Linked DNA regions of Homo sapiens: all the other regions are linked to region 4. The links come from fine-mapping of genetic effects on plasma protein levels. A gene starts in region 4. Each other region holds a variant in brackets. All regions are shown on one strand. Distances are from middle to middle.

Region 1 (8,107 bases), 46 kb before region 4:
TCTCCTGACCTCATGATCCGCCTGCCTCGGCCTCCCAGAGTGCTGGGATTACAGGCATGAGCCACCGCACCTCGCCCTATTTTTGTAATTTTAGTAGAGATGGGGTGCCATTTTGACCGGGCTGATCTTGAACTCCTGACCTCAAGTGACCTGCCCACCTTGGCCTCCCAAAGTGCTGGGATTACAGGCGTGAGCTGTCACACCTGGCATCAGTAACTGAGTATTTAATACAAGTAACCTCAACTTAGTTCTTCAATTTGAATAGATCCTTTAGGAAAGAGGAAGACTATTCGACTAAGACTAATAAACTAAGTATATTATTGAAGCTAAATTATTTGTCCTCCATTCTATCTCCACTTCCCACCTCCCCAGCTGTAGAGCCCTGGAACTGCTCCTTCATCATCAGCACAAACTCCGGTCTCCAAGGAGCCCCTTCACTTGCCTTACTGCAGGGCTGGTGCTCTCCAGCAGCCCAGTGGAGTGGTGGATGTGATTCTTTCAAACGTCAGAGACTTTGCTATCTAGATGCAAGATTAGAAAACTTTCTGCTCCTCATTTCATCTTTCAGAACATGACCCACCCAATCTCTTGTGAAAAGGAATCCTATTTCTTAAGGCTTATACCATTTTACCTCTATAACCTGCTAATTTTCTTTGTCATTGCTATCATTTGATTACTTTCCTTTGATCATCAAAAACTTTGCACTTGATTCAGAGTCTTTCCCCTGCTCTAATTCCTGCCATCATTGTGGGTGGTTTCAATACCCATAGTATCTTTTCGATGCTCTGATTTCTCATTTTCTTACCAAACTCATCTTTTACGGCCTTTTCTACACTCAGTTATCTCTTCCCCTGGTCTGGATCTTTTAATGAAATTCTGGATCTTTTAATGAAAAAGAACAAAATTATCAATATTCCAAATAAATGGCTTAGACATTGAGCACTCTTACCATAATGTCTCATTTTTCTGGATTGATTCTTTAACTACTCCTACCTTGATGATCCTTCAGTGAAGGTCCAGTCCCCATTTCTATATCCTCTCCCTATGTTTAATTATCTTCCTATTCAGTTTATAGTTCATGGCCCATAATTCTAAGAACAATTTTGTCAGTGCCATAAACTGTCTTATCTCTCCTGTTTAGCAAAAACTAATGCAGTGTGACCTCCACTCTTTCATTTTTGTATATCTTAACCTGGATAACAGACCAATTTTGGAGAAAAATCACAAAGTAGGGCATATCCATTCAATAATACTGGAAATTTGCTATCGTCAACTTCAACTGGACTTTCAACATGGCCCTAAAATCCTAGTGTGTTTCCCTAAGCAAGTTGCTTTCTTACTTGCTGGACTGTTTTACATTTTCTGTGCTCTACTTTATGCCTTAGACTCTTATCCCATTTTCCCTTTTAGCCCAGATAAAATCAAAATCAACTTCCCACTACCTCACCATCTTCCGCTTATCTCTTCCCATTCTTGTCTGGTGCATCGGTGGAGAATCCCCTTCTCTTGTCTTCACCTGTTTTCCACCTTTGCCCAGGAATTCTCCTATTCTTGCCTTTAAAGAACCTTAGATAATGGATTCTCCCTCCTCTCCACTGTCTCTTCAACTTCTTTGCTTTTAATGAGGTTTTCTCATCAACATTTTAATTTGATCTTTGAGAAAGCTCAGCTTAAAAAAAATCCTTCTCCAACTACATGGTACATTTTAACATTTTTAGTATCATTAACAGTCAAAATCTATAAGCCATTTTGAGGTGCAGCCTCATCAATGCTACTTTTCCTGTGCACCTGAACCCAATTGCATGCTACAATATATTCAAAGTTAACCTCCTCTTGCCAGCAGGTGGCTCTGTGTCAAAAAGGGAAAAGGAAACAAAATAAAAATACAAATTGTGAGATCTACAATCTAAGATTTGGACCCAGGTCCTGGTCCCTACTACTCATTTTTTTTATACTTTAATGGTTACTACAGGAAAGCTACTTACTATCCAGAGAAGAAGAGATATCCATGAAGAAACAAATTAATAAAAAACTAAAGCAGTTATTTCAAGGAGATTTCAAATGAACTTCAGATCTATATGTATTTTGTTTTTTTTAAATTAACATAGCCAAAAAGATAAGAGGAGGAAAAATGGTAAGTACATTTAAAATGACTACACACATATCTCATTTTAGTGATCTTTGCTTTATTGATCTTCATAGATATTGCGTTTTTTACAAACTGAAGGTTTGTGGCAACCCTGTGTCAAGCAAGTCTATTGGCACTAGTTTTCCAACAGCATGTGCTCACTCCATGCCTCTGTGTAATTCTTGCAATATTTCTAAATTATTATTACATCTGTTATGGTGATCTGTGATCAGTGATCTCTAATGTTACTACTGGAATTGTTTAGGGGTGCCATGAACTGTGCCCTTATAAGATAGTGAACTTAATCAATAAATGTGTGTGTTCTGACTGCTCTACCAACCAGCCTTTTCCCTGCTTCTCTCGCTCTCCTTGGGCCTCCCTGTTCTCTGAGACACAACAGTATTAAAGTTAGACCAATTAATAGCAATGGCCTCTAAGTGTTCAGCTGAAAGGAAGAGTCACATGCCTTTTACTTTATTTTTAAATTTATTTTTATAGAGCCAGAGTCTTGCTCTATTGCCCAGACTGGAGTGCAGTGGTACAGTCATGGCTCACTGTAACCTCGAAATCCTGAGTTCAAGCAATCCTCCTACCTCAGGCTCCTAAGTAGCCAGGACTACAGGCTTGCACTATCACCCTTGGCTAATTTTTAAACTTTTTGTAGACATGGGGTTTCACTTTGTTGCCCAGGCTGATCTCAAACTTCTTGTCTCAAATGATTCTCCTGCCTCAGCCTTCCAAAATGCCGGGATTACAGGCATGAATCACCACACCCAGCAGTGACCCTCACTTCAAGTTAAAGGCTAGAAATAAGCTTAGTGAGGTAGGTATGTCAAAAGGCTGAAAGCCAGGCCTCTTGTGCCAAACAGCCAAGTTGTGAATGCAAAGGAAAAGTTCTTGAAAGAAACTAAAAGTGCTACCCCAGTAAACAGGTGAATGATACGAAAGTGAAGCAGTCTTATTGCTGATAGAGAAAAAGTTCGAGTGGTCTGGATAGAAGATCAAAGCAGCTAGAACATTCCCTTAAGCCAAAGCCTCATGCAGAGCAAGACCCTATCTCTCTTCAATTCTATGAAGGCTGAAAGAGGAGAATACCGCAGAAGAAGAGTTGGAAGCTAGCAAAAGTTGGTTCATGAGGTTTAAGGAAAGAAGTTGTCTCCATAATATAAAAGTACAAAGTAAAACAGCAAGTGCTGATGGAGAAGCTGCAGTAAGTTGTCCACAAGACCTAGCTAAGACAAAGAATGAAAGTGGCTAAACAACAGATTTTCAATGTGGACAAAACAGTTACATTGGAAGAAGATGCCATCTAGGACTTTCCTAGCTAAAGAGAAGTCAGTGCCTGGCTTTCAAACTTCAAAGGACAGGCTGACTCTCTTGTTAGGGGCTAATGCAGCTTGTGACTTTATGTCAAAACCAACGTTCATTTATCATTCTGAAAATCCTAGAGCTGTTAGTGTTAGGCCTCTGAGCCCAAGCCAAGCCATCGCATCCCCAGTGACTTGCACCTATATGCCCAGATGGCCTGAAGTAACTGAAGAATCACAAAAGAAGTGAAAATGGTCTGTTCCTGCCTTAACTGATGACATTGTCTTGTGAAATTCCTTCTCCTGGCTCATCCTGGCTCAAAAACTCTGCTACTGAGCACCTTGCGATCCCCACTCTTGCCTGCCAGAGAACAAATCCCCTTTGACTGTAATTTTCGTTTACCCAAATCCTATAAAACGGCCCCACCCTTATCTCCCTTCATTGACTCTCTTTTTGGACTCAGCCCACCTGCACCCAGGTGAAATAAACAGCCTTGTTGCTCACACAAAGCCTGCTTTGTCTCTTCACACAGACACGCATGAAATTTGGTGCCGTGACTTGGATTGGGGGTCCTCCCTTGGGAGATCAATCCCCTGTCCTCCTGCTCTTTGCTCCGTGAGAAAGATCCACTTAGGACCTCAGGTACTCAGACCCACCAGCCCAAGGAACATCTCAACAATTTTAAATCGGGTAAGCAGCCTCTCTTTACTCTCTTCTCCAACCTCTCTCACTATCCCTCAACCACTTTCTCCTTTCAATCTTGGCACTACCCTTCAATCTCTCCCTTCTCTTAATTTCAATTCCTTTTATTTTCTGGTAGAGACAAAGGAGACACGTTTTATCCGTGGACCCAAAACTTCGGCGCCAGTCATGGACTCGGGAAGGCAGCCTTCCCTTGGTGTTTAATCATTGCAGGGATGCCTCTCTGATTATTCACCCATGTTTCAGAGGTGTCTGACCACGTAGGGATGCCTGCCTTGGTCCTTCACTCTTAGCTAGCGGCAAGTCCTGCTTTTCTGGGGGAGGGACAAGAACCCTGACCCCTTCTCTCCCTGTCTCTACCCCTTCTCTGCTTTTCTGGGGGACAAGAACCCACTGATCCCTTATTTCCGCACCCTGACCCCTTATCTCTGTGCCCCGATCCCTTATTTCCATGCCCTGATCCCTTATCTCTGTGCCCCAATCCCTTATTTCCATGC[C/T]CCAACCCCTTATCTCTGCACCCCGATCCCTTATTTCCACACCCCAACCTCTTATCTCTGCACCCTGATCCCTTATTTCCATGCCCCAACCTCTTATCTCTGTGCCCCGATCCCTTATTTCCATGTCCTGACCTCTTATCTCTGTGCACCAACCCCTTATTTCCACACCCCAACCCCTTCACCACTTTTCTGGGGGGCAAGAACCCCCAAGCCCTTCTCTCCATGTCTCTACTCTCTCTTTTCTCTGGGCTTGCCTCCTTCACTACGGGTAAGCTTCTGCCCTCCATTCTCCCTCCATTCTCCCTTCTTCTCCCTTAGCCTGTGTTCTTAAAAACCTAAAACCTCTTCAACTCACACCTGACCTAAAACCTAAATGCCTTATTTTCTTCTGCAATGCTGCTTGACCCCAATACAAACTCCACAGTGGTTCCAAATAGCCAGAAAGCAGCACTTTCAATTTTTCCATCCTACAAGATCTAAATAATTCTTGTCGTAAAATGGGCAAACGGTCTAAGGTGCCTGACATCCAGGCATTCTTTTACACATCAGTCCCTCCCTAGTCTCTGTTCCCAGTGCAACTCATCCCTAATCTTCCTTCTTTCCCTCTCGCCTGTCCCCTCAGTCACAACCCCAAGCGTCACTGAGTCTTTCTAATCTTCCTTTTCTACAGACCCATCTGACCTCTCCCCTCCTCGCCAGGCCAAGCTAGGTCCCAATTCTTCCTCAGCCTCTGCTCCTCCACCCTATAATCCTTTTATCACCTCCCCTCCTCACACCTGGTCCGGCTTACAGTTTCATTCCATGAGTAGCCCTCCCTCACCTGCCCAGCAATTTCCTCTTAAAAAGGTGGCTGCAGCTAAAGGCATAGTCAAGGTTAATGCTCCTTTTTCCTTATCCCAAATCGGAGAGCATTTAGGCTCTTTTTAATCAAATATAAAAACCCAGCCCAGTTCATGGCTCGTTTGGCAGCAACACTGACATGCTGTACAGCCCTAGACCCTAAAAGGTCAAAAAGCCGTCTTATTCTCAATATACATTTTATTACCCAATCTGCTCCCAACATTAAATAAAACTCCAAAAATTAAATTCCAGCCCTCAAACCCCACAACAGGACTTAATTAACCTCGCCTTCAAGGTGTACAATAATAGAAAAAAGTTGCAATTCCTTGCCTCCGCTATGAGACAAACCCCATCCACATCTCCAGCACACAAGAACTTCCAAATGCCGGAACTGTAGCAGCCAGGCGTTCCTCCAGAACCTCCTCCCACAGGAGCTTGCTACAAGTGCTGGAAATCTGGCCACCGGGTCAAGGAATGCCTGCAGCCCAGGATTCCTCCTAAGCCATGTCCCATCTGTGCGGGACCCCACTGAAGATCGGACTGTTCAACTCACCTGGCAGCCACTCCCAGAGCCCCTGGAACTCTGGCCCAAGGCTCTCTGACTGACTCCTTCCCAGATCTTCTCGGCTTAGTGGCTGAAGACTGACACTGCCTGATCACCTCGGAAGACCCCTAGACCATCATGGATGCCAAGCTTTAGGTAACTTTCATAGTGGAAGGTAAGTCCGTCCCCTTCTTAATCAATATAGAGGCTACCCACTCCACATTACCTTCTTTTCAAGGGCCTGTTTCCCTTGCCTCCATAACTGTTGTGGGTATTGACGGCCAGGCTTCTAAACCTCTTAAAACTCCCCAACTCTGGTGCCAACTTACACAATACTCTTTTAAGCACTCCTTTTAGTTATCCCCACCTGCCCAGTTCCCTTATTAGGCTGAGACACTTTAACTAAATTATCTGCTACCCTGACTATTCCTGGGCTACAGCCACACCTCATTGCCACCTTTTCTCCCAGTTCAAAGCCTCCTTCACATCCTCCCCTTTTATCTCCCCACTTAACCCACAAGTATGAGACATCTCTACTCCTTCCCTGGCAACCAATCACATGCCCATTACCATCCCATTAAAACCTAATCACCCTTACCCCGCTCAACGCCAATATCCCATCCCACAACATGCTTTAAAAGGATTAAAGCCTGTTATCACTCGCCTGCTACAGCATGGGCTTCTAAAACCTATAAACTCTCCTTACCATTCCCCCATTTTACCTGTCCTAAAACCAGACAAGACTTACAGGTTAGTTCAGGATCTGCGCCTTATCAACCAAATTGTTTTGCCTATCCACCCCGTGGTGCCAAACCCATATACTCTCCTATCCTCAATACCTCCTTCTACAACCCATTATTCTGTTCTAGATCTCAAACATGCTTTCTTTACTATTCCTTTGCACCCTTCATCCCAGCCTCCCTTGGCTTTCACTTAGACCGACCCTGTCACCCATCAGGCTCAGCAAATTACCTGGGCTGTACTGCCACAAGGCTTCACAGACAGCCCCCTTTACTTCAGTCAAGCCCAAATTTCATCCTCATCTGTTACCTATCTTGGCATAATTCTCATAAAAACACACCTGCTGTCCCTGCTGATTGTGTCCAACTAATCTCCCAAACCTCAATCCCTTACAAAACAACAACTCCTTTCCTTCTAGGCATGGTTAGTGCGGTCAGAATTCTTACACAAGAGCTGGGACCGCACCCTGTAGCCCTTCTGTCCAAACAACTTGACCTTACTGTTTTAGCCTAGCCCTCATGTCTGCATGCAGCAGCTGCCGCTGCTTTCATACTTTTAGAGGCCCTAAAAATCACAAACTATGCTCAACTCACTCTCTACATTTCTCATAACTTCCAAAATCTATTTTCTTCCTCATACCTGACACATATACTTTCTGCTCCCCGTCTCCTTCAGCTATACTCACTCTTTGTTGAGTCTCCCACAATTACCATTTTTCCCAGCACGGACTTCAATCCGGCCTCCCACATTATTCTGGATACCACACTTGACCCTTATGACTGTATCTCTCTGATCCACCTGACATTCACCCCATTTCCCCATATTTCCTTCTTTCCTGTTCCTCACCCTGATCACATTTAGTTTATTGATGGCAGTTCCACCAGACCTGATCGCCACTCACCAGCGAAGGCAGGCTATGCTACAGCATCTTCCACATCTATCATTGAGGCTACCACTCTGCCCCACTCCACTACCTCTCAGCAAGCCGAATTAGTTGCCTTAACTCAAGCCCTCACTCTTGCAAAAGGACTACACGTCAATATTTATACTGACTCTAAATATGCCTTTTATATTCTGCACCACCAAGCTATTATATAGGCTGAAAGAGATTCCCTCACCACGCAAGGGTCCTCCATCATTAATGCCTCTTTAATAAAAACTCTGCTCATGGCCGCTTTACTTCCAAAGAAAGCTAGAGTCATTCACTACAAAGGCCATCAAAAGGCGTCAGATCCCATTGCTCTAGGCAACGCTTATGCTGATAAGGTGGCTAGACAAGCAGCTAGCTTTCCAACTTCTGTCCCTCACGGCCAGTTTTTCTCCTTCACACGAGTCACTCCCACCTAC
Region 2 (8,107 bases), 17 kb before region 4:
TATATTTTTTCTCTGGAATAAAAGCTATAATTGATGGAAGAATTAGAGTTAAAGAGATAAGAGAAAAAAAGGTTCTAAAAGGAAATGAGTCTAGTTTGATTTTTTTTTTTTTTTTTAGATAAAAGATAAAGGAGCCGGAAAAAGAGGTCTGTGACTAAGCTTGTTTAACATGGTAACAGTGAGGGTGGTCACATTCTTAGTTGGTCATTAAATATTTTGGTAGGTTGAGAATGAAGAAAAGCAAACACAATCAAGGAAATCAAGAAGATATTTTACTCCCTGGCACAAAAAATACGAATGATTCTCAATCCATTAAGTAATTCCAAATTAAAGGTTTTTCTGAAAAAAATTAACTTCATATGAATTTTATAGCAGAGCAAAATAAGACAATTTAACATGAATGCACAACCGATGATGAAAAAGTAGCATTTTATTATCTTTCCTATAATCTGTTACTCTTATTTTTTCTATAAGATTCAGACCTGAAGTGAATCTGCAGGCCTGAATTTTAGGTTGGCTATTTTCTAACTAGTGTACTTGGACAAGTCACCTATTCTTTCTGTGCTTGGATTCTTTATTTGTAAAATAGAGATTATAATAGTACCAATTTTATGGGGTTGTTGGGAGGAGTCAATGAGAAAATACACTTGAAATACTGAGAAAATTATCTAACAGGTAGTAGACAAGGTAGTCAATAAATGTAGTAAGTGTAGTCAATAAATGTTAGCTACTATTATTATTTCTGAGACATCAGAAATAATAATAATAATCAGGGTCAAATGCCAAAGGAAACTTAATTGAATTGTGAGATAGCAATTCATTATTTATGCAAATTATTTTTTCAAAGGCACCGAGACTATAACTGCAGAGCACTGCATTGGATTACCTTTCCCAGAGACAACTATCGCATTGTGCTCTGGACACAATGTGTGGTCAAACCAAAAATTCTTTCCTTCCCTTAACTCTTCATATGTTCCTCTCCTCCTCTGTAAGCTACAAACAGACACAAGAATAGGATCTGACTTGATTCTCCTCTGAATTCCCAGAGCCTATCACAATACCGGCACTTTGTAAATGCTTACTAGATGTTGTTCAAACAAATGATTGATAATGACCACATTTGTATTTTGCCTTTGAATTTTTTTCTGAGCACCAGATGCACAGAACCATATATCAATTAGATATTTCCACTTGGATTTCTCACAATTACCTCATGATGAACCTCTTAGTGGGCTCTTCACTTGGCTTTTTTTTTTTTTTTTTGTCTTGGCGTCATGCAACAGATACCTAAGGCACGTGTTTTCATAATGTCACTGTTTTCTTCCTGTCTCTGGGATTTGCTCTTTCCTCTCCATTGCATTGCAACAGTTTCCTCTTGTCTCTTTGCACCCCGTCATTAGTCTTTACAGAGCTCTCTTCCCATCCCAGAGTCCAACACATTCTCTTACAGAGCATTCTTCCTAAAATGCAAATCTAATAATGACACTTTTTTTTTGTATAAAATCATCCAGTGTCATCCATAAAAGACTGGCTAAAATTTTAATTCCTCAATATGGCATAGTAGGCATATTTTTTTTCTCCTATCTATATCCAGTTTCCCCTTTCTCATTTTCCAGCTTACCCAGACATCCTGGGTTGTTTGCAGTCTCTGAACAGTTCCTCTATGCTCACAGACCTGGGATTTTAAAATATGCTGCTCTCACCTCATGGAGCATTCCCTTCTCCCCTTTACCTAGTCAATTCTAAAGTTTGTATCTCCTCCTTTGGGAAATATTTTCTAGTCTCCATATATTCATTTTCCACTCTATGCTCACCTCTACCACATTCCCAGTTGTATAACTGTCTTTTCACTTCCATGCACCCATTATTAGACTATTAGTTCTTGAGGCGAGAAGAAGGAGCATTAAATAGGGAGTCAGGAGAGGTAGCCTCTACTCTCAGCCTTGCAACCAACACTTAGTTCCATCATAGACAAAGTATGAATGATGCTGGATCTCAGCTTTTCTTGCAGGTCTTACCTAGATTATCTTTATATGGAATCTAAGTAGTTCCATACAGAACATTTAAAAATATATTTGTGATATCTTTTATTCTATCGCATTTCTGCAAACACTGATTTCCATTTGACAAAGTCACTTCAGCAATCCTTATTGGCTGCAAGTCACAATCTACAAGGAGACCATGACCCAGAAGCAAAGCAAGTGAATCAGAAACACCTTTCTGCCCTCTACCATATAATTTTCCCTAACTAAAGTAAGTATTGTAAAGGCTCAAAACAAAATAAAGCAAAAACAACTATGAGTTTTGTAATGTATGAACATAGGGTGTTAAGAGGCAAATGCCAAGAGAGGAAGCTGGATACAGGTAGGAAATTTATGAGGATGTGCCTGGATTATAGTGTAAGGATTAAGAGCAATGATTTTAAAGACAGACTGCTTGGGTTCAAGTCCATATTATTTTCATTATTAGTTGTGTAATTGTGAGCAAGTTCTGATCCTCAGTTTTCTTACTTATCAAATAGGAATAATAATAGTAGTAGTAATAATTAAAAATAGTAAAAAATAATAGTAGTGGTAAAATACTTATAAGAATAACAGTAGTAGTAACAATAATACAAAACCCCATAGTGCAGTTATGAAAATTAAATATATTAATTAATATGAAGTACTTAGAACAATGCCTACTGCCAGTAAGTTATGTTAGCTAAGAGTATTGCTAAGATGTAATCAAAGACAGTAACTTAATCAAATCACAAAATAGGGCCACTGTATCTATCTCAAAAGAAAAAGTCAATGATGTTCTTAAGAACTGATATATTTGATTGGAGATCATTCAGTAATAATTGATTGAAATATTAACTAGAATCATCAACATAAATGGTGGCATTCTACATAGGGTGCCACTAGTTATATATATGACTATACTGGAGAAGATGATGAAATTTTTCTTTGAAAACAACCAAAACGCTTAAGTATCACTGACCAGGAATTGAAACATTTCTTTTGTTATAAGCCTTTGGAATTTAGTTGAGTAGTGATCATTTTATGCAGATCAGATTTAAACACATATTTAAATTAATAAAATACCAATAACCAACTAGAATTAAATTGTTCATAACAGAAAATTATTTAAATAAAAATTCAACAAAATGAAACAAAAAAATTCAGTAATTATGCATAGACTCACTGCATAATAGCCTGTCTCACCACACAAACACACACACAAAACCACGTGGAAAACAATATCCTGATTCTGTGATGGATGAAAACCTAGGTCAAATTTATGTTAAAAGCAAACAGCCACTTGGCTTAAGAATCCTGGCTGAGATACTTGACAATAATCTCCAGGATCTTAGGACCATCAACTCTGTATTAAGCATTGATCCCAATGGCCTAAAATTGAACGTCATTTGAGCTGTGCACATACTTTGGCTTGAAGATGGACATTGAACCATTAATTAGTTTTCCATGCAAACATTTTTTGTAAGGTTTGGACATCAGATAAAGCAGTCCAACATTTTTCAAATTAAAAGCATTCATATGACATCTCTGGGGGAATAACTGGCAAATACAAATACAAGTATCGAACACACATGCTAGAAAGACAACAGGCATTTTGCTTTGCGCTTATGATAATGACTTAATTCAAAACCGAGCTCAGTTTGGACAGTATGTTTACTTATTTGTTTATTTCAATGAATCGGAAAGGACATGAGTTATATTTTCTGTATCCAATAAATGTTATTATTTAAAACTAAGCCAAATACATTCAGAAAGATTTTGGCAGGCGCTAAAGAGTCACTGGTGTGGTAGTCACTCAAGGCTCAAACCAAATAACATATGATGAAAGTTCAAGCTCAATTTGGAGAATATTTTTAAGTTCTGGTTTAACTCAGGATGGAAAGGTTTTTTTTTCAAATATTTTTATTGTGATAAAATATACATAACAAAAAATTTACTTTTTTAACCATTTCTAAATGTATAGTTTAGGGACATTACACTGTGTACATTCAAACTGCTGTATAGCCATCACCACTATCCATTTTCAGATCTTTTTCACTATCCCAAAGGATGAGTAGCTTTAGAATATATACACGTTTGGCTTTTTCCCATTTGATTCCTTATAAATGTCTTTTGGAAGAAACTCTTGATTACTTCACAGTTCCTTTAAAGAATGTGTATCTGAGTTTACCATATGAGTTCAATTTGTTCAAATGGATGCTTTGCTGTTTGTTTTTTAATTCTCTGCTTGGGATCACTAATAAATAGCCCTACTGCGCATAAGGCTTAAGGCAGTCCCAATGAGCAGAAGGTTACCTTGGATTATATTTCCATTCAGTGTGAAACAGTGTAAGAATTAAAAAATAGTGTCAGTACT[T/G]AGGCACCTGAATGATCAATATTCCACTTCATCAAATAATTTTTGGATCTATTGCCACAGTGATCCCATTTTTTAAAGACACATCTTGAAAAAAGGTGAAAGAAAGAAAACCAATGGTTTGAGGCTAAGAATTCAGTCTCTATCTCTCTAACCAAGCTAAATAACCATACGTTTCATTTCAAGACCACTGGCCTCCAAATATTAGGCATAGAATTAATAGAGCTAATGGATGACTACTTGAATTTGGAGTAAAGCTTTATGCTTTGAGTTTAGCTTGGGACAGGCATTACAATTTTACTGAGTTGGCTAGAGGGTTAGTGAGATTACCTTGATACTGACTCTGATTTAGAAGCTAGTTCCATAGAGCCTGATAATCCATAAATGACATGGAGTGTAACACCCACAGAACTCTAGAACATCAGGGAAAGCCAAGCTCCAGGTTGTTTCTACTTCACATAGACTTCTTAGGTGTGTAACCCTTGAGGGAAGGAAACTTGCTTATTTTGCGCACCACTGATTTCTGGAATAGTGCCAGGCAGATAGAAGGCACTCAAGAAATAGTTCTAGACTGAAAGAATATCCCACCCCACCAGCTCCCCACACCCCACCCCCTCCAACAGACACACACATCTCTTGTTTACAACAGCATGAAGGTACAAATGAGGTCATGTTAACATCAATTTTTCCAAATTTAACAGGCTCTGTGCCTCACCTTCTTGACTGACAGTTATTAGCATCCCTCTTCCAAAATCTTCAGTTTTTTGTAACATCCCCAGAGTATGTCTCACATGTGTGTAAGAACAAGTCTGGTCTGGTTCTCCTGACTTGCCTTCCTTGTTGCTGCTGCCTGTTACCTACAAGCACCTTGAGGGAGTGTCTCCTCATGATCACTGCCTTAGCTAAACAATGTGAGAATGGGAAAATGTTGCTGCCTTCAACAAGGGTGCATGTCCTGATGCTCCTGCAACTGAGAAATCTTGGGATGGCAAATGGTACAAGAAATAGAATCCTCTCCTCATCCCAACTCAGTGCTACACTTTGACACAGAGATCCAAAGCAGTACTCACAAAATTGTTTATGAAAAGACCCCCATTCTCTGCTTCCTGCAACCCTACAAATCTAGTTTTGGGGCCAGGCAAGGAGAACACAAACCTGAGTTTTCTCTGTCTTCCTATCCCTTTTCTTTCACTCACTGATAGACTGATAGAAAAATGTTCTCCTCTCATGCTTATGAAATAATTCAAGTCAATATCTTGGATGAAGGGCTGACTCATTGACCCAATGCCTGCAGCCAGACTCTGAATCCTAGCTTGGGATCTGCTGAGATACCCCATCAAGTTGTAGAACAATTTGTTTTCATTAAATGAATCATCGTTGATAGAAAAGTTACAATTCAGATTGACTTGGCATAAGTCACGTATCCATCTCTGTGTTTGGGAAGGTAGAGCAATGTGATGGAAAGCCCCATTAGAACCCAGTGGAATGGGGAAAGGGGATGCTAGATTGTTGAGAAAATAACAAGACCCACTATTTTCTTTAATTAGAATTAATTTTATGATAAACTGGGCGTGGTGGCATGCACCTAGAATCGCAGCTACTTGGGATGCTGAAGTGGGAGGATCTCTTGAGCCCAGGAGTTCAAGTCCAGCCTGGGCAACATAGCAAGAATCTGTCTCTTAAAATAAAAATGTATGATAAACTAAAAAGACATTTCTTTCTCATCTAATGGGCTTGAAATCAGATAATCACTAAAACTATGCCTAGAACATTTCTTTCTTCAAAGGCTGGACATTAAAAATTTGGATTTACTAAGAGAACTATAAAATACAGCAACACCTGTAGTAGGAAGTGTCTCACGCAATGCCAAGAGCATAAAAAAAAGTGTACAAATCCCTGTGTTATCAGAAGGCCCTGCATGTTGGGCATCTATTATTTGCTGTCCAGCATCATCCTCTGCTTTCTGGAAACAGCATCCTAAAACTACAACCCCCATTCCCAGCCAAGTGGTTGGCGTAGGATTGATCTTTGGATCTGGAGTGAGCCTTTATTGGTTTTCCCTGATCACCATACCCTCCACCACCACTCAGGACACAGTGATTGGTTCAGAGATGAGCACATAACCCAGTCACCCAGGAGCAAGGTACGGCTTTTGTGGGCCCTGGGTACTTTTGCCTACGTGGACACCTTCCTCCATACAAAAAAATTAAAAATCTTATTTTAAATGGCACTGATATAGATACATTGATATTGTTAATAAGACATTTTCCTTGAACTAGAAGTGTTTTTTTCATTTGATTTTGAAAGAAATTAAAACATTTTTCATAGGCCCCTGAAAGTATTGCAGGCCCTAGGCACAGGGCCTTGCAGTCAGGCAGTGAGATTCTAGATGACATTTGCCAGGCCTCTGGGAAACAGAAGCCTTCTATTCTGCTGGATTTGGTGGCAAAAGACCTTTGGGCTTGCACCTGCTCAGATATTTTCAACCACAAGGGGTAATCTCGGAGTAGCTGGAAGCCATGAGGAGGAAGCTGGGAATGGCACTAACTTTATATAAGCAGAACCGAGGGATGAAGCTGGTGATAACAGCATGAGATCAGGCAGCCATTTCTATATCCAATACAATTCTTTTTTTATTTTTTTCTGAAGTCTGTGTAATTTGGGGTTGCTGTTGAACAGGGTCCTCCCTGAAACAACTGCCTAATGAAAACTTAAAAAGCAAACACTGCTTGTGTTGTTACTGTAGGCATGTTATGGAAGAGGCTCGATAATTCCATTTAACATTTTATGATGTCTTAGTGCAACTTCACTGCTTTCTTTTCATAGTTCTTTTCTTTCTCTGATTCATATTGGTCAGAGCGATTGTTTACAAATGAAATGTACTCCTGTTGCTTCCTTACTTAAAATCCTTCAGTGATTCCTCACTGCCTGGGGTACAAGCTCCATGAGGTTCAGTCTGGTGGGTTAGGCTCAGACAACACCTGCCTCCCACCAGGATCCCTGCTTTACATAGAGATTGGAATGTCTTCTTCACTCTTACTTCTGTGCCTTTACTTGAACCTTCCCTCTGCCTGAATGCTTTTCTTCTTTCCCACACTTTCTCATCTTCAAGTTTTGGCTTAAGTATTACATAGCTATTGCTCAATAAAAGTTTATCAAGTTGACTATATCTAAACTCTAAAAGAGAGTTGAGACTTAGTTGGGCTTATTGATCATAAATGCACTGTTCCTATGACTGTGTTTAAACATACAGTTAAGGCTTAGTTCTCTATACATATATAAGAAATAGTGGGTAGAGCATGCTATTAGCAACTGACAGAGTTCTCAAGGAGAAAAGTTTACATGTAGTTTCCACAGGCTTCTTTCTTTCCATCATGCCATGAGAGACTTGCTATGGTCTGACCTGTGCTTGCTTTTCAGACTCATCTACCTGGAGCTAGATGCTAGCTAGAACTCTGGCCCTGATCAATACTAACTTACCTCAAAGGCATTTTTCTATTGGGAAGACTTTCCTCCATCCTTAGCAGTCAATTATCTTTCTCTCTGTTATCCTTGAATCTTTTTTTGTTTTTCAGACGAAGTCTTGCTGTGATGCCCAGGCTGGAGTGCAATGGCATGATCCCGGCTCACTGTAATCTCTGCTTCCTGGGTTCAAGCGATTCTCCTGCCTCAGCCTTCCAAGTAGCTGGGACTACAGGCATGCGCCACCAAGACTGGGTAATTTTTGTATTTT
Region 3 (8,107 bases), 44 kb after region 4:
TCATTTCACTTTAGTAAATTTAAGAAAAAATAAGATTTTGTGGGTAAAATATTTAGTCATTATACACAAAGAAACTAAGAACTGGTGACACAAAACTATTTTTTTAATCCATGAGCAATAAAGAGATGACTCACATCTATAGAGAATCAGACCTAAATCTCCATGTCATAAATTTGAATAAAAAATCTAGCTACTTCTCTTTCTTCTTGAATTCATGTGGGAGAATAAAGATGGAGAAATCTACTTCCTCCTCAGATCATGTTACTTTTCTTCTCATTATTCTTAAAGTGATATTTTCTCCTTCTCCTAGGAGCAGATGTTCAATGAGCTGCTCACGTATAATGCGCCTCATCTTATGCAAGACTTGGACACATATTTAGGGGGGAGAGAATGGCTTATTGGTAACTCTGTGAGTATGTTTTATATCTTAAAAAATTCAAGCAAATAAAAGGACAAACCAATAGAAGTATAAAAACTTACTGAAAAAAAGTTACCTATAGGGAGGGGATAGAATTTACAGCAAGAACAAAGGTTAAACTTCTTTAAATAAACCTTTTTAAAAAATAGATTTGACTTTGGAACCATATTTTATATAATTATATATTGGCAGCGAAAACTTAAAAAGCTATCCTAAAAATCAAAGCAAAGTAAATGAACCTAACTATGCAAAAGAGGTGCATAGAGAACACACAGAATACATATGTACTCTACTAGAGAAGAACTATTTCAAGAAGTATCATTTGTAAAACACACTAATCTGATTATACATCTAAGACAGATATCTCTTAGCTTAGAACAACAAAAAATCATATACTATTTTCAGTAATCATATTGTTGGTGGTACTACAAACTATTGGTATTTTTTTTCTGGTATTATTATAATTATATTGTGGGTACAAAAATAAATTGTGTTGATGTCACTGAGAACCAGGATCTTCAATGTGGGAGAACGGAGATAGAGATGTAAGGTGAGTAAGGTCAAGTAAATATCCATTCCTGAACTTGAACTACAGCTAACAGTATAAACTCATATGTATTTTATATCAGGATAAATTATGAAGCATTTTATATCTCGATCAGTTGGAAAAAGTTTGTCTTCATGAAAGTATTCCAGTTAATAGATAAGAAAGAAAGACTGAAATAAACTATCACCACTTTCCAACCCCAGAAAAATTAATTGGCGTAGGCATGGACCATCAATAATCACAAAAAAGTTAGACAACCAGATACTAGGCACACTACCACCTAGTAGTCTTGCCAAAAAATTCAAATCTAAACCTGATTACAAGTTGTGGTAGGTGGAGGTCTCTACCTTCAGGGAGACTGCATTTTGGGAGATAAGACTGCTTTTTTGTAGCATGCTGACACTCTGCTGTCTGCCCTGTTCAGCCCTTCTGGGTGATACAGAACTACATTTGCCACATCTTTATTCTCAACTTTCAACCTCTTCACATACCCCTTCATTTCTTCTGACTCCCCTCATAGCCTTTACTAAAATGCTCCTCTCCCTGCCCTATTGAAAAATTTCTAAGAATTTATTTTTCATTTTCTATTAAGATTCCTTTGTAAATGATGTTCTGATCTCATCTCTGGGCACTCTCTCCCTTCTTCACAGTGCTCCACACTGGTGTGTGTGTCCCTCAGACCTAACTCACATTCCCACTTAAGGGCCTTTACGCATTTCCCTATACCTGGAACGCTTAATCCCCAGATTGCTCACTGCAGGTCTTAATCTTTTTTTATATTTAAGCCTGGGCTTACGTGTCACCTCTTAAAAAGTCCTCTCTGACCATGTCATAGTCCATCACATGACTTCACTTTTTTTTTTTCCTAACCCCTATCATTTTGCATATTTGCTTTTCCCTTCTAAAATAAAAGCTACATGAGAGAAGGGCTTGCATCCTACCTTGCTCTCCAGCACCTAAACCTGGGCATGGCACACAGTAGGTGCTTGATAAATATTTGAATAAATTCTGGATTTATTCTGAATTCTGAGTCTTCCAGCCAGTAGCTTCTCTTGGCTGACAGATGTTTAATAAGTTCCTGAGGCACTAGCAATCAGCTTTATTAAATTCTATACAAAAAGAAAAAAGAGTGGGCCACATTTAAACTTCACTCTTTGATAATCATATGGAGCCAAAGTAACAGCATACAGATTAGTTTCTAACACAAAGATAAAAACATACAACTGTACAATGGTAGGACCAGGCTGTCATCACTAATCCAGTGGCCAATCTTGGCATACCCCTAATGGTCAGACATCCATATATTCTTTTTATGTGATACAATATAATGTATTTTAGCCACAAATATTTCACTTGAAATTATATACCCTCTAAGAGTAACCTGCACCTTCCTTTATACTACGTAGTACAAAGGAACAAGGTAAGATGAAATACAAAGGTCCTGAAGATAGAACATTCTGTAGGACTAGTGTGAAATCTTCAATAATTTGGTGATGTGAAAAAAAGGGTACTGCTTTGAAGAGTTAATGGACATAAGCAGATCAAATGCATAGACCTGGAATAGATCCTGCTTTGTCCTGTAAAGGGCAATTTTAGAACAGATGGAAAAATACGTATTGGTTATTGGATAAGGAAAATGTATTGTCACAGAGAGGTGGAGACTGGACAAGGTTACAAGAGTATGTACCATTAAGATCTCATGTTAGTAAAACAACATCTATCAGCATAGAAAAATATCTTATACACGAAAATGTTTAATAGTAGTAACCTGATTGCTGGAGTGTGATATCAGTAATTTTCTGAACTTCTATCATATAAACATTCTGCTTTTGTAATAACAAGATTGTTTTGAATCTTTTAGATTAAGAAACTAATTTCAATTTTGGAATGCTGATACAGCTACACTTTCTATGTTCAAATGAAAAGTTTGTTTCCTTTAAACTAGGTAACTTGGGCAGACTTCTACTGGGAGATTTGCAGTACCACACTTTTGGTCTTTAAGCCTGACCTGTTAGACAACCATCCAAGGCTGGTGACTTTACGGAAGAAAGTCCAAGCCATTCCTGCCGTCGCTAACTGGATAAAACGAAGGCCCCAAACCAAACTCTAGCTGATCCATGTTGCCTTCAAGTTTGTTTTTCTCGGGGGCATCTCTCTCATCAGATAAGACAGCTACATCAGCCTGCCAGATAATCCACATGCTCCCTCCCCAGCTCCACTAAGATTTTCACTTTAGCCATATTCTGATTTTTAAAAAGGAAAATAAAAACAAATCTTTCTTCAGTATCTTTTTCTTTCAGAATAGCTTCTCATCATTTACAATTACAGAAAAATAGTATGTAATACAGGCAGACCTTGCTTTGCACAGGTTCTAACATGCACGAATTGCAGTCATAATGGTTTAGCAACACCATTCTTCCCCTCCCCCAAAATGTTTTGGACTTCAGCTACCACAATTACCTGTAATTGCATAAAACACAAACTTTGCTAGTAGCTCTCCAGTTCACATATCGCTGTGTAAATAACCTATGTACATCATGACCAATGACCAGTCACTTCTATCAAAGACTGCCAGAGGTCACTGCACATCTGTTATTCCTGCATAGATAGCAAAGTGTGTAGTTGTATTGCTATTGCCTGCTTGTGGCCCAGTGATAAATCCCTTTGACATTTTACAAAAATGAATCAAAAGAGGGAACTCCCCAACAAAGATGAAAGTGCAGCAAAGGAACAAAAACTGATAATCCTGGAATGAAATTCAAACTGAATATAAAGAGTTATCGAGAAAAGAGCTGACTGTGGGAATCTGACACGGCTCAAAAGGCTCTAGATATGCAGCCAGAGAAACTTGTAAAGATGAATTTACTGACATGAATAAAGTTG[T/C]TGTGATGAGAAAAATGTAGATACCCCAGAGATCAAGAGAAGGAGAAGACAAGCCACAGACTTGGAGAAAATACTTGTAAAACATGTATCTGACAAAAGACTATTATTCAAAATTATATAGAACTCATAAAACTCGGCTGACTCTCTTTTCGGACTCAGCCCACCTGCACCCAGGTGAAATAAACAGCCACGTTGCTCACACAAAGCCTGTTTGGTGGTCTCTTCACACGGACGCGTATGAAATTTGGTGCCGTGACTCGGATTGGGGGACCTCCCTTGGGAGATCAATCCCCTGTCCTCCTGCTCTTTGCTCCGTGAGAAAGATCCACCTATGACCTCAGGTCCTCAGACCGCCCAGCCCAAGAAACATCACACCAATTTCAAATCCGGTAAGCGGCCTCTTTTTACTCTCTTCTCCAACTTCCCTCACTATCCCTCAACCTCTTTCTCCTTTCAATCTTGGCGCTACACTTCAATCTCTCCCTTCTCTTAATTTCAATTCCTTTCATTTTCTGGTAGAGACAAAAGAGACACGTTTTATCCGTGGACCCAAAACTCCGGCGCCGGTCACGGACTGGGAAGGCAGCCTTCCCTTGGTGTTTAATCAATGCAGGGACGCCTCTCTGATTATACACCCATGTATCAAGGGTGTCAGACCACGCAGGGACGCCTGCCTTGGTCCTTCACCCTTAGCGGCAAGTCCCGCTTTTCTGGGGAAGGGGCAAGTACCCCAACCCCTTCTCTCCTTGTCTCTACCCCTTCTCTGCTTTCCTGGGGCAGGGGCAAGTACCCCTCAACCCCTTCTCCTTCACCCTTAGCGGCAAGTCCCGCTTTCCTGGGGCAGGGGCAAGTACCCCTCAACCCCTTCTCCTTCACGCTTAGCGGCAAGTTCCGCTTTCCTGGGGCAGGGGCAAGTACCCCTCAACCCCTTCTCCTTCACCCTTAGCGGCAAGTCCTGCTTTTCTAGGGGGCAAGAACCCCCAAACCCCTTCCCTCCGTGTCTCTACGCTCTCTTTTCTCTGGGCTTGCCTCCTTCACTATGGGCAAGCTTCCACCTTCCATTCCTCCTTCTTCTCCCTTAGCCTGTATTCTTAAGAACTTAAAACCTCTTCAACTCTCACCTGACCTAAAATCTAAGTGTCTTATTTTCTTCTGCAATGTCGCTTGACCCCAATACAAACTCGACAGTAGTTCCAAATAGCCGGAAAACGGCACTTTCAATTTTTCCGTCCTACAAGATCTAAATAATTCCTGTCGTAAAATGGGCAAATGGTCTGAGGTGCCTGACATCCAGGCATTCTTTTACACATCAGTCCATTCCTAGTCTCTGTGCCCAATGCAACTCGTCCCAAATCTCCTGCCTGTCCCCTCAGTCCCAACGCCAAGCGTCGCTGAGTCTTTCTAATCTTCCTTTTCTACAGACCCATCTGACCTCTCCCCTCCTAGCCAGGCCAAGCTAGGTCCCAATTCTTCCTCAGCCTCCACTCCTCCACCCTATAATCTTTTTATCGCCTCCCCTCCTCACACCTGGTCTGGCTTACAGTTTCGTTCTGTGACTAGCCCTCCCCCACCTGCCCAGCAATTTATTCTTAAAAAGGTGGCTGGAGCTAAAGGCATAGTCAAGGTTAATGCTCCTTTTTCTTTATCCCAAATCAGATAGTGTTTAGGCTTTTTCATCAAATATAAAAACCCAGCCCAGTTCATGGCTCGTTCGGCAGCAACCCTGAGACGCTTTACAGCCCTAGACCCTAAAAGGTCAAAAGGCTATCTTATTCTCAATATACATTGTATTACCCAATCTGCTCCCGACATTAAATAAAACTCCAAAAATTAAATTCTGGCCCTCAAACCCCACAACAGGATTTAATTAACCTCGCCTTCAAGGTGTACAATAATAGAAAAAAGTTGCAATTCCTGGCCTCCACTGTGAGACAAACCCCAGCCACATCTCCAGCACACAAGAACTTCCAAATGCCTGAACTGCAGCGGACAGGCGTTCCTCCAGAACCTCCTCCCCCAGGAGCTTGCTACAAGTGCCAGAAATCTGACCACTAGGCCAAGGAATGCCTGCAGCCCAGGATTCCTCCTAAGACATGTCCCATCTGTGCGGGACCCCACTGGAAATTGGACTGTTCAACTCACCTGGCAGCCACTCCCAGAGCCCCTGGAACTCTGGCCCAAGGCTCTCTGACTGACTCCTCGGCTTAGCGGCTGAAGACTGATGCTGCCCGATCGCCTCGGAAGCCCCGTAGACCATCACGGACCCCGAGCTTCGGGTAACTCTCACAGTGGAAGGTAAGTCCGTCCCCTTCTTAATCAATATGGAGGCTACCCACTCCACATTACCTTCTTTTCAAGGGCCTGTTTCCCTTGCCTCCATAACTGTTGTGGGTATTGACGGCCAGGCTTCTAAACCTCTTAAAACTCCCCAACTCTGGTGCCAACTTAGACAATACTCTTTTAAGCACTCCTTTTTAGTTATCCCCACCTGCCCAGTTCCCTTATTAGGCTGAGACACTTTAAATTATCTGCTTCCCTGACTATTCCTGGACTACAGCTACATCTCATTGCTGCCCTTCTTCCCAATCCAAAGCCTCCTTTGTGTCCTCCTCTTATATCCCCCCACCTTAACCCACAAGTATAAGATACCTCTACTCCCTCCTTGGCGACCGATCATGCACCCCTTCCCATCTCATTAAAACCTAATCACCCTTACCCCGCTCAATGTCAAGATCCCATCCCAAAGCATGCTTTAAAAGGATTAAAGCCTGTTATCACTTGCCTGCTACAGCATGACCTTTTAAAGCCTATAAACTCTCCTTACCATTCCCCCATTTTACCTGTCCTAAAACCAGACAAGGCTTACAAGTTAGTTCAGAATCTGCACCTTATCAACCAAATTGTTTTGCCTATCCACCCCGTGGTGCCAAACCCATATATTCTCCTATCCTCAATACCTCCCTCTACTACCCATTATTCTGTTCTAGATCTCAAACGTGCTTTCTTTACTATTCCTTTGCACCCTTCATCCCAGTCTCTCTTTGCTTTCACTTTGGCCCTGACTCAGCAAATTACCTAGGCTGTACTGCCGCAAGGCTTCACAGACAGCCCCCATTACTTCAGTCAAGCCCAAATTTCATCCTCATCTGTTACCTATCTCGGCATAATTCTCATAAAAACACACGTGCTTTCCCTGCTGATCATGTCCGATTAATCTCTCAAACCTCAATCCCTTACAAAACAACAACTCCTTTCCTTCCTAGGCATGGTTAGTGCGGTCAGAATTCTTACACAAGAGCCAGGACTGCACCCTGTAGCCTTTCTGTCCAAACAACTTGACCTTACTGTTTTAGCCTAGCCCTCATGTCTGCGTGCAGCGGCTGCCGCTGCTTTAATACTTTTAGAGGCCCTCAAAATCACAAACTATGCTCAACTCACTCTCTACATTTCTCATAACTTCCAAAATCTATTTTCTTCCTCATACCTGACGCATATACTTTCTGCTCCCCGGCTCCTTCAGCTGTACTTACTCTTTAAGTCCCACAATTACCATTGTTTCTGGCCCGGACTTCAATCCGGCCTCCCACATTATTCCTGATACCACACCTGACACCCATGACTGTATCTCTCTGATCCACCTGATATTCACCCCATTTCCCCATATTTCCTTCTTTCCTGTTCCTCACCCTGATCACGCTTGATTTATTGATGGCAGTTCCACCAGGCCTAATCGCCGCATACCAGCAAAGGCAGGCTATGCTATAGTACAAGCCACTAGCCCGCCTCTCAGAACCTCTCATTTCCTTTCCATCGTGGAAATCTATCCTCAAGGAAATAACTTCTCAGTGTTCCATCTGCTATTCTACTACTCCTCAGGGATTATTCAGGCCCCCTCCCTTCCCTACACATCAAGCTCGAGGATTTGCCCCACCCAGGACTGGCAAATTAGTTTTACTCAACATGCCTGAGTAAGGAAACTAAAATACCTCTTAGTCCAAATAGACACTTTCACTGAATAAGTAAAGGCCTTTCCTACAGGGTCTGAGAAGGCCACCGCAGTCATTTCTTTCCTTCTGTCAAACATAATTCCTCAGTTTAGCCTTCCCACCTCTATACAGTCTGATGACGGACCAGCCTTTATTAGTCAAATCAGCCAAGCAGTTTTTCAGGCTTTTAGTAGGTTTCAGTGAAACCTTTATATCCCTTACGGTCCTCCGTCTTCAAGAAAAGTAGAACGGACTAAAGGTCTTTTAAAAACA
Region 4 (8,107 bases):
TTTGTAGGCATTCAATGAGGTAATACAAGACAAGTGCTTGGTTCAATGCTTGGCCCACAGGAAATACTTAATGAATTTTAGCTATTTCTATTACTATTATTTGCCTACATATAGGAATCCTCTTTTAGCCAAAAGGCTAGGTAGTGAAAGATTTGCTCATAATCTTGGATATAATTACCATATCATTCTTCACAGTATCTGAAGAGGCAGACTTCAGATAATAGCATTATCATTATTGAAATCTGGGAAAACACAGACACTAAAATATTTGCAGGCATGTTTCAATTACTCAAGTAGGTTAGAAGCAGAAAAACATATTCTTTATTTCCTGTATTTTCAACCCCAGGTTTAAATACGTCACTTTTACATGTTTTTAGTTTTTCAAATAACTAACTATAAAAAGGAAAACTGTTTTATTAAATAAAATATACAAAAGTAAACCAGACCACTCTAGAATCTGAGCAAAGGAAGTTTTGTGGGCTTCTCCTGGATACTTCTCCCCTTCCCCATCAACAGACAAGCTAGAAAAGGAGAAATAGGTTTGTTTGAACACTTCTCTTTTACAAAAATAAATAAAGAGGAACAAATATGTGGGCCACGTTTTAAAAATTGTATGTGTTTTTCCATTACTTATCGAGCAACTGCTTGCTAAGCAAGGCACTAAGTGACTTAAATGCACAAACTCATTGAATCCTTTCAACTCTGAGTAGAATGATTTTTATCATCACCATTTTACAGATAAGGAAACTAAGGCAGCTGCCTAAAGTCCCAGAGCTTGCAAATAATGGAGTGGAGATTCCTCTAAGAGGTCATGATTCCAGGATGAAACTCTTTAATCACTATCTTGTATAGTCACATTACTACACAGGTGGGCAAATAAAGAAAACAAGGACAGAAATGGACTATGATTTAACGTTGGATTTTTAACAGCAGTTAGGAATTTGCTAATTCAATACCACAGGATTAAAAGTTTTCCAACTAGGAAGCCCCAGAGAAAATGAAGACATATTTATTAAATTATAATAGGCCTTTAAATGACTGTGTGGACATGATCATACAACTTGACACGTTTTTTCACGGGTATTTCTCATGCAGTCCAGTCTGGATCCACAACATGCTCCTGAAGGGTGTGTGGCATGAAGAAGTCACTGCCCTGGAGAGCAGGGAACTGAGAGGTAACAATCCATGAGGGGTTTTCACTTTGCCCTTGCCCTTTTCCTCCTCCCTATTCCAGTAGACACTTGGCTCCGTGCTCATTTCCTCAGAAGAGGATGAAGCAGGGTGAAAAATGAAAGTTGCCTGACAGCTACTTCTCTTTCTGCTGTTAGTGCCCAAACCCAACCACAGAAAAGGAAAGAATTCTTGAGCATAGATTCTTGAAGGGAAACGATTTTCCCTTCAGGTGAACTGCTAATAATATTAACAATTGCTCTCACTCATGGATCCCTAACTATGCATTAGGCACACTTTGAAGCACATATCTGTGTACTCATTTAATTCTGTAAAAGCTTATGAGAGAGTTATTACTAATATTGTTAGAATGCTCCATGAAGATTTGTTTTTGTCTGATTTTATTTAGTGCTATATCTCTATTTATTTACTTATTTATTTTTGAGATGGAGTCTCGCTCTGTCGCCAGGCTGGAGTGTAGTGGCACGCTCTCGGCTCACTGCAATCTCTGCCTCCCGGGTTCAAGCGATTCTCCTGCCTCACACTCCCGCGTAGCTGGGATTACAGGCGTGGGCCACCACACCTGGCTGATTTTTGTATTTTTAGTAGAGATGGAGTTTCACCATGTTGACCAGGATGGTCTCCATCTCCTGACCTTGTGATCCACCTGCCTCGGCCTCCCAAAGTGCTGGGATTACAGGAGTGAGCCACCGCGCCCAGCCTTATTTACTGCTATATCTCTAGCGTTCAGAACAATACCTGGCAAAGATTAGGAACAAATAAATATTTATTGTAGAATCAATCTCCATCTAAAGGTGAAGGAGCTCAGGCACAGAGAGATTAAGTTACCTGCCCAAAGGCCCACAGCTGGTAGAAGACTAGGAGAGTTAGAGCACCCCCACCTGGGCTGGGAGAAGAGACAAGAGGATGGGAAAGCTGTGCTTCCCGAGTAGAGGAGATCTGGGACCCTCTCCTGGGACCCTCTTGTGCCTCCAGGGAGGTAGAAAGACCACAGAGAAGAAGTGGCTCTGTTGGGTACTGGGCAGGTGGAATCTCAGGCAGCGTTGTGATGAAACCACCACACTGGGGCAAGAAGGTAGCAAAATGAGAATGCTACAGGAGCTGCAGAGAGCTCCTGGCGTGGAGGCCATGCACACAAGGACAATGGATGCCTCTAGAGCAGCCTCTGTTGATCGGTGACCAAGGATCAAGTGGCTGCTCCTTCCCCAATCCTTGATGTGTTACTCTGCTTTCCTCCAGCCAAAACAACTGGTCGTAAAAGATAAAATTGTAATACAAAATGAGAAAAGTGTTATTTTTTGTATACTTGATTTTTTTTTAACTGAAGCAGTCTCGTATTATATATAGGCAGCATTATGTAAGGAAAAATATTAAATGTGTCATCAGAAGGCCTAGATTTTAATCCTAGCTTGTCCCAACAAAAATTCGCAGGCAATTTACCTAATTTCCCTATGTCTCAGTTTCCTCATTTATAAAAATAGGGATTAAAAATCATTGAGGTGAGGATAAAAAGATTTTTTTGAAAATATAAGTTAAAGCTGTCAAAGATAATAAATGCATTGTGTTAATTTTGTATAGCTCCCACTCCCATCCCATTTGCACTTGATTTTGACACACATGTATCCTTTTTTGGTGGGTAAAGGGCTACACTTGCGTCTTCTCTTTTTACATACTAGTATTTACATTTATTTTCATTTCTGACGTTTATACTAAGTGGATGTAAACATATTTTTCAAAATTAAAAGCACTTTAGAAATAAGAAATATTAAATGATTGATATGTTGCTATTGTTGCCTGTGGGAGTAATTTTCTGGAAGTTGAAAGCCAGCTGGTCATTGAAATGTTTCATGGATAATCCTCAGGCTCAGTAAGGCCCAGGCAGGCATTTTATTGGATCTTTTCACTGAGCTGTCCTAATATTATAGATAAAAATAATTCCTGCACTAAGAAGTGAAACAATAAATTTCTAAAATGTCAGGCATTTGTTACTAAATTGTAAAAGGATCACAAACAAGATGAATTGGAAACTTCTACACCAGGTTTACTTTAAACACTTTGGCTTTTCTGAGAAATGAGAGTAAATGAAATAAACCAGCAACAATGCAAATTTACAGTCCTTGCAAAAACGTGAACTATAAATTAGGGTTATTCTATCATCAGATGTATATTAGTGGTCATGACATGCCTGGCACTCCTCTTAGAACTGAGGAGACAATAGTGAAAAAGACAGTGAAGTGCCTGCCTTTACAGAGCTTACATTCCACTGGGAGAAACCAAAAACAAACAAGTTAAATACACCACATTGTTAGACACTGCCTCGAAGGAACATACAGCAGGTACAGGAGAGACTGTTTCTAAAATAGAGAAGCAAGTCATGTGCACATCTGCAAAGATGATTTCATTACATTCAGGTTTTCTTATTCTCCAGGAGCCTATGGTGTAAAACTGAAAATAAGTGAACATGTAACAGTGGGCATACATATGCAGCTATAACTTTGACTTTACCTTGTATACAAATGTGTTGGTTTATTTATACCCAGATATCCTGTATAACCAGCAGTCTTCGCAGGCTTGAACTGCCTGGCATGCATGTTTTATCTAAGAAAAGAAGGAAGAGCGTTAGGTAGAAGGAAGTTGCCTGTCCTCTCACTGGCTCGTGATTATCACTTACTCGTCATATAAACCCAAGGCACAGTCACATACCCAGGGATACAAGACACTGCAGACTCCCGAGAGACATAACACAGGTAAGTCATATTACTGAACTCCACATAGGTAATAAATGAGATATGCTTTACTCTTTACTTCAGAGTTTTTATTATTCTCATATCCTGTTTGTGACTAACTGTCTTGTGAGCTATTTTCATGATGGTGCTCACTCTGACCTTGTCTTACCCAGAACCTCTCCATATATGCGAATATGTGAAACTCAAATAGTCATTTTTAAGGAAATATAGGTACAGGAGATTTAAGAAGATCTCTTCAAGTGGATTTTAACATAGAAAATATAATCAATGCTAGAGGAAAAATCCTGTCTTAATCAGGGTTTGTTACTACTTCCAGAATTTTCCCAAGTGATTCTTCAATAACTTGGATTGATGGAGTAGAGAATATTATCTCATGGCTGTTCAATTTCTTTCCTTTGCTTTAAAGTTTAAGACTTTTACTGGTAATATTTTATATTATTTTAAGGCACATTTTGTTGAAGCATCTCCATGTTTTGATAAGAATTGCAACCTATCATCTTTTGGCTTCAGAGATGGTTTAAGGGATTTACCCCAGGCCAGGAATTTCAACTCACAGCTCCCAAAGGATATTTCAGTTATTCCTCTTGCTTTGGCTTTAATGTGAAACAGTCACTTAAAATGACATTTAGTTGATATTTGATAAAAAAAAAAAAAATAGAGCTTTCAGCTTGCTAATTCAAAGTTAAACATCCAGTGCTTGATTGAAATCAATATCTTACTCAGTCAACAACAATTCTTCTATTTCTCTATTGTCCTATAATTTAACTCCAACCTGGCAACTTTTCCAGAATTGAACTTGAAATGCCCAGGGACACTGTGAAATGAGGGAAATTAACATTCTTTACCATCAAATGTTAGGGGTAATAAAAAGCTGTTTTAATGTCAGTATATGCAAGAAGTTCCCCTGTGAACAATAGTATCTCACATGATTGCTGTCTGAATCCAATTTTTACATTTCAGAACACCAGGGTCTATATAATAGGAGTGTAAACATGCTCTAGGCCATTACATTTTGTATAAGTTTATTACTGGGCAAGTTAAGATCTGCATCTTAAACTCAAAGAAGAGCTATAGCAAATTCACAAGTAATCTTTGTTTTTATATCTCTAACTCAGATTATTGCGCAATTACTAAGCATGTAAAAAACTGTGTCTGGAATGCCCAAATATGTTTGAATTCTTGATGTGTCGTATTTAAGAGTAAGAGCTTACGTTGGCTAACATTTTGTATTGAACTGTAGAATGGTCAATACTTAATTCCTCATTTGTAAGTTTTCTATCTAACAAAATTATTCCAAAAGTTCTCTTTTTTGAACTAAAAATATTTCGGCTGAAGTCTTTATTAAGATGTTTAGTATAGGCATTGGATATTGATTAGCCTGTGTTGTCAGAGAGTTGAAATTGGATTGTTGTCATCTTTCTGGCACAGAGACTAGAATTTTTGAGACTATTTTTTACTGTGCTTTTACAGCAGTATACGGAATAATATATTGTTAAATTGTTTTATTATAAAAGTTTGTAATTTTTTCAATGATTATGTTAAAATTGCCTCTGGGATTGAATTAATCAGATGAAATAAATCAGCATTGTATTAGTTAGTTTTCACGCTGCTGATTAAGACATACCTGAGACTGGGTAATTTATAAAGAAAAAAAAGTTTGGCCGGGCGAGGTGGCTCAGCCTGTAATCCCAACATTTTGGGAGGCCGAGGCTGGCGGATCACCTGAGGTTAGGAGGTCCTGGCCAACATGGCGAAACCACGTCTCTACTAAAAATACAAAAATTAGCTGGGCGCGGTGGTGGGCGTCTGTAATCCCAGCTACTGGGGAGGCTGAGGCAGGGAGAATCGCTTGAACCCGGGAGGCGGATGCTGCAGTGAGCCGAGATTGCGCCACTGCACTCCAGCCTGGGCGACAGAGCAAGACTCCGTCTCAAAAAAAAAAAAAGAAAGAAAAAAAAAAAGAAAAAAATTTGCCGGGCGTGGTGGTTGGTGCCTGTAATCCCAGCTACTCTGGTGGCTGCGGCAGGAGAATCGCTTGAACCCGGGAGGCAGAGGCTGCGGTGAGACGAGATCACGCCATTGCACTCCAGGCTGGGCGACAAGAGTAAAACTCCGTCTCAAAAAAAAAAAAAAAAAAAAAAAAAGGGAGGGGGGCGGGCCGGGCCCGGTGGCTCACCCCTGTAAACCCAGCACTTTGGGAGGCTGAGGCAGGCGGATCACGAGGTCAGGAGATCGAGACCACCCCGGCTAACACGGGGAAACCCCATCTCTATTAAATATACAAAAAAATTAGCTGGGCGTGGTGGCGCGTGCCTGTAGTCCCAGCTACTCGGGAAGCTGAGGCAGGAGAATGGCGTGAACCCGGGAGGTGGAGCTTGCAGTGAGTGGAGATCACGCCACTGCACTCCAGCCTGGGCGACAGAGAGAGACTCCGTCTCAAAAAAAAAAAAAAAAAAAAAAAAAAAAAAAAAAAAAAAAAAAAAGAGAAAGAAAGAAAGAAAGAAAGAAAGAAAGAAAGAAAGAAAGAAAGAAAGGTTTAGACCAGGCACAGTGGCTCACACCTGTAATCCCAGCACTTTGGGAGGCCCAGGCAGGCGGATCACAAGGTCAGATGATCGAGACCATCCTGGCCAACATGGTGAAACCCCATCTCCACTAAAAAATAAAATACAAAAATTAGCTGTATGTGGTGGCGCACACCTATAATCCTAGCTACTTGGGAGACTGAGGCAGGATAATCGCTTGAACCCAGGAGGCGGAGATTTCAGTGAGCCCAGATTGCGCCACTGCACTGCAGTTCCACATGGCTGGGGAGACCTCACCATCATAGCGGAAGAGGAAGGGATGTCTTACATGGCAGCAGGCAAGACAGAACCAGAGCCAAGTTAAAGGGGAAATCCCTTATAAAATGATCAGATCTCGTGAGACTTATTTACTACCATGAAGTCAGTATGGGGGAAACCGCCCCCATGATTCAATTATCTCCCACCGGGTCCCTCCCATGACAAGTGGGAATTATGGGAGCTACAATTCAAGATGAGATTCTGGTGGGGATATAGCCAAACCATAACAAGCATTCTATAAAGTAAAAAAAAGCTACAAGAAAGAAAGAGAAAGAAAGGAAGTACCCAAGATAGTACTTTAAAAACACTGTTATTTCCCATATAAAAGAGCTTATTTCCTAATGCATATATTAATATTAAAAGTTAAATCTTCTGCAGTGGATAGCTATGTTCATATGAGTTTATATGTCTAAGTTTTTATCCAGGGTATTTATTAGTCGTTTATGTGTTCTTTGATAAACCGTATAGGTTATTTTTCAAACAGAATTCTAAATGAGCTTTTTATCTATCTGCTGAATTAGTAACTTTACACGATATACTTTGGGGTGTAAGGAAGCCAGTGGTTAATTTTAGATGCAAAGATCTTTAGATGTAAATATCTTCAAACACAATCAGCTTTTAAACTTCAGGCTTCTGTATCATTTCAGGAAACATGCAGTTTTCTCTACATGAGATTCTTAACACAACGACAGTGGAAGGGTTCAGAAATGAAGCTAACAGGAAATAAGGGACCAGAATGATACTGCAGTTTTGCTATGCTAGTCAAATCATACCAAGATAACCTAGATGTTATTTCTGTGTTTGATAGAAAGTTGGGGTCTAATTATGCTTATTTTCCCTCTATTGTCTCAGAACCATTTTAGTCTAGTTTCAGTCTCAGAACCATTTAGTCCTCACTCTATGTCATGTCTGTCCTATATATGAGGTTCTGTTTTAAGACAATGCACCTCTGAGCAAATACCGCATTACAAGGCTTTTTATCTAAGTCTTGCTATCTGGTACATCAGGTCCTCCTCTCCTGTTCTCTTTTTTTCTTTGTCTTGGCTATTTTGGTCCTTAGCATTTCCATTTGAAATCTAGGATCCAGTTTATCTGTAGAATCTCTCGAAGTTTAAATATAGACAATCATTTTGGACACAGCAAATGGATGCTGTGTCGCTCCCTTCCTACTACTTAACAAATGTTATTTATTGTTGTCTTACATTATTGAATTAGCTAGGCTGTCCAGCATTATGCTGAATAGTAGATGTTATAGTGGGATTCTTGTTACTTCTGACATTAAAGAAAATGCTTTTATTGATTCACCATTATGTATTATATTTGCTA

Alleles and levels. Positions count from the first base shown, and alleles are read on the strand shown. Strength reflects both the effect of a copy and how common the allele is.
For the plasma level of the protein whose gene starts at base 3,897 in region 4, C is the high allele of the variant in region 1 and T is the other (weak association).
As copies of G replace T in region 2, the plasma level of the protein whose gene starts at base 3,897 in region 4 goes down (weak association).
As copies of C replace T in region 3, the plasma level of the protein whose gene starts at base 3,897 in region 4 goes down (weak association).

What was found. PIP is the chance, under the fine-mapping model, that this variant and not a neighbour inherited with it causes the effect. The UK Biobank Pharma Proteomics Project read protein levels with antibody pairs (Olink). The fine-mapping took linkage between variants from a reference panel, not from the people measured, so its PIPs are less certain.
Region 1: its variant is fine-mapped to the plasma level of the HPGDS protein (UK Biobank, PIP above 0.99).
Region 2: its variant is fine-mapped to the plasma level of the HPGDS protein (UK Biobank, PIP above 0.99).
Region 3: its variant is fine-mapped to the plasma level of the HPGDS protein (UK Biobank, PIP above 0.99).

The regions. Positions count from the first base shown.
Region 1 is chr4:94,384,739-94,392,845 of GRCh38, reverse strand. No RefSeq gene overlaps it. Among named protein-coding and RNA genes, the nearest start is that of HPGDS, 46 kb to the right of the region's middle. RefSeq lists an enhancer at 7,746-8,107. The variant C/T (reference allele first, on the strand shown) is at 4,636.
Region 2 is chr4:94,355,404-94,363,510 of GRCh38, reverse strand. No RefSeq gene overlaps it. Among named protein-coding and RNA genes, the nearest start is that of HPGDS, 17 kb to the right of the region's middle. The variant T/G (reference allele first, on the strand shown) is at 4,378.
Region 3 is chr4:94,294,448-94,302,554 of GRCh38, reverse strand. HPGDS (hematopoietic prostaglandin D synthase) reads left to right here. Exons shown (of 6, transcript NM_014485.3): 5 at 311-409; 6 at 2,911-4,020. The coding sequence ends at 3,075. Among named protein-coding and RNA genes, the nearest start is that of HPGDS, 44 kb to the left of the region's middle. The variant T/C (reference allele first, on the strand shown) is at 3,849.
Region 4 is chr4:94,338,626-94,346,732 of GRCh38, reverse strand. It overlaps HPGDS (hematopoietic prostaglandin D synthase), which reads left to right and starts at 3,897. Exons shown (of 6, transcript NM_014485.3): 1 at 3,897-3,938.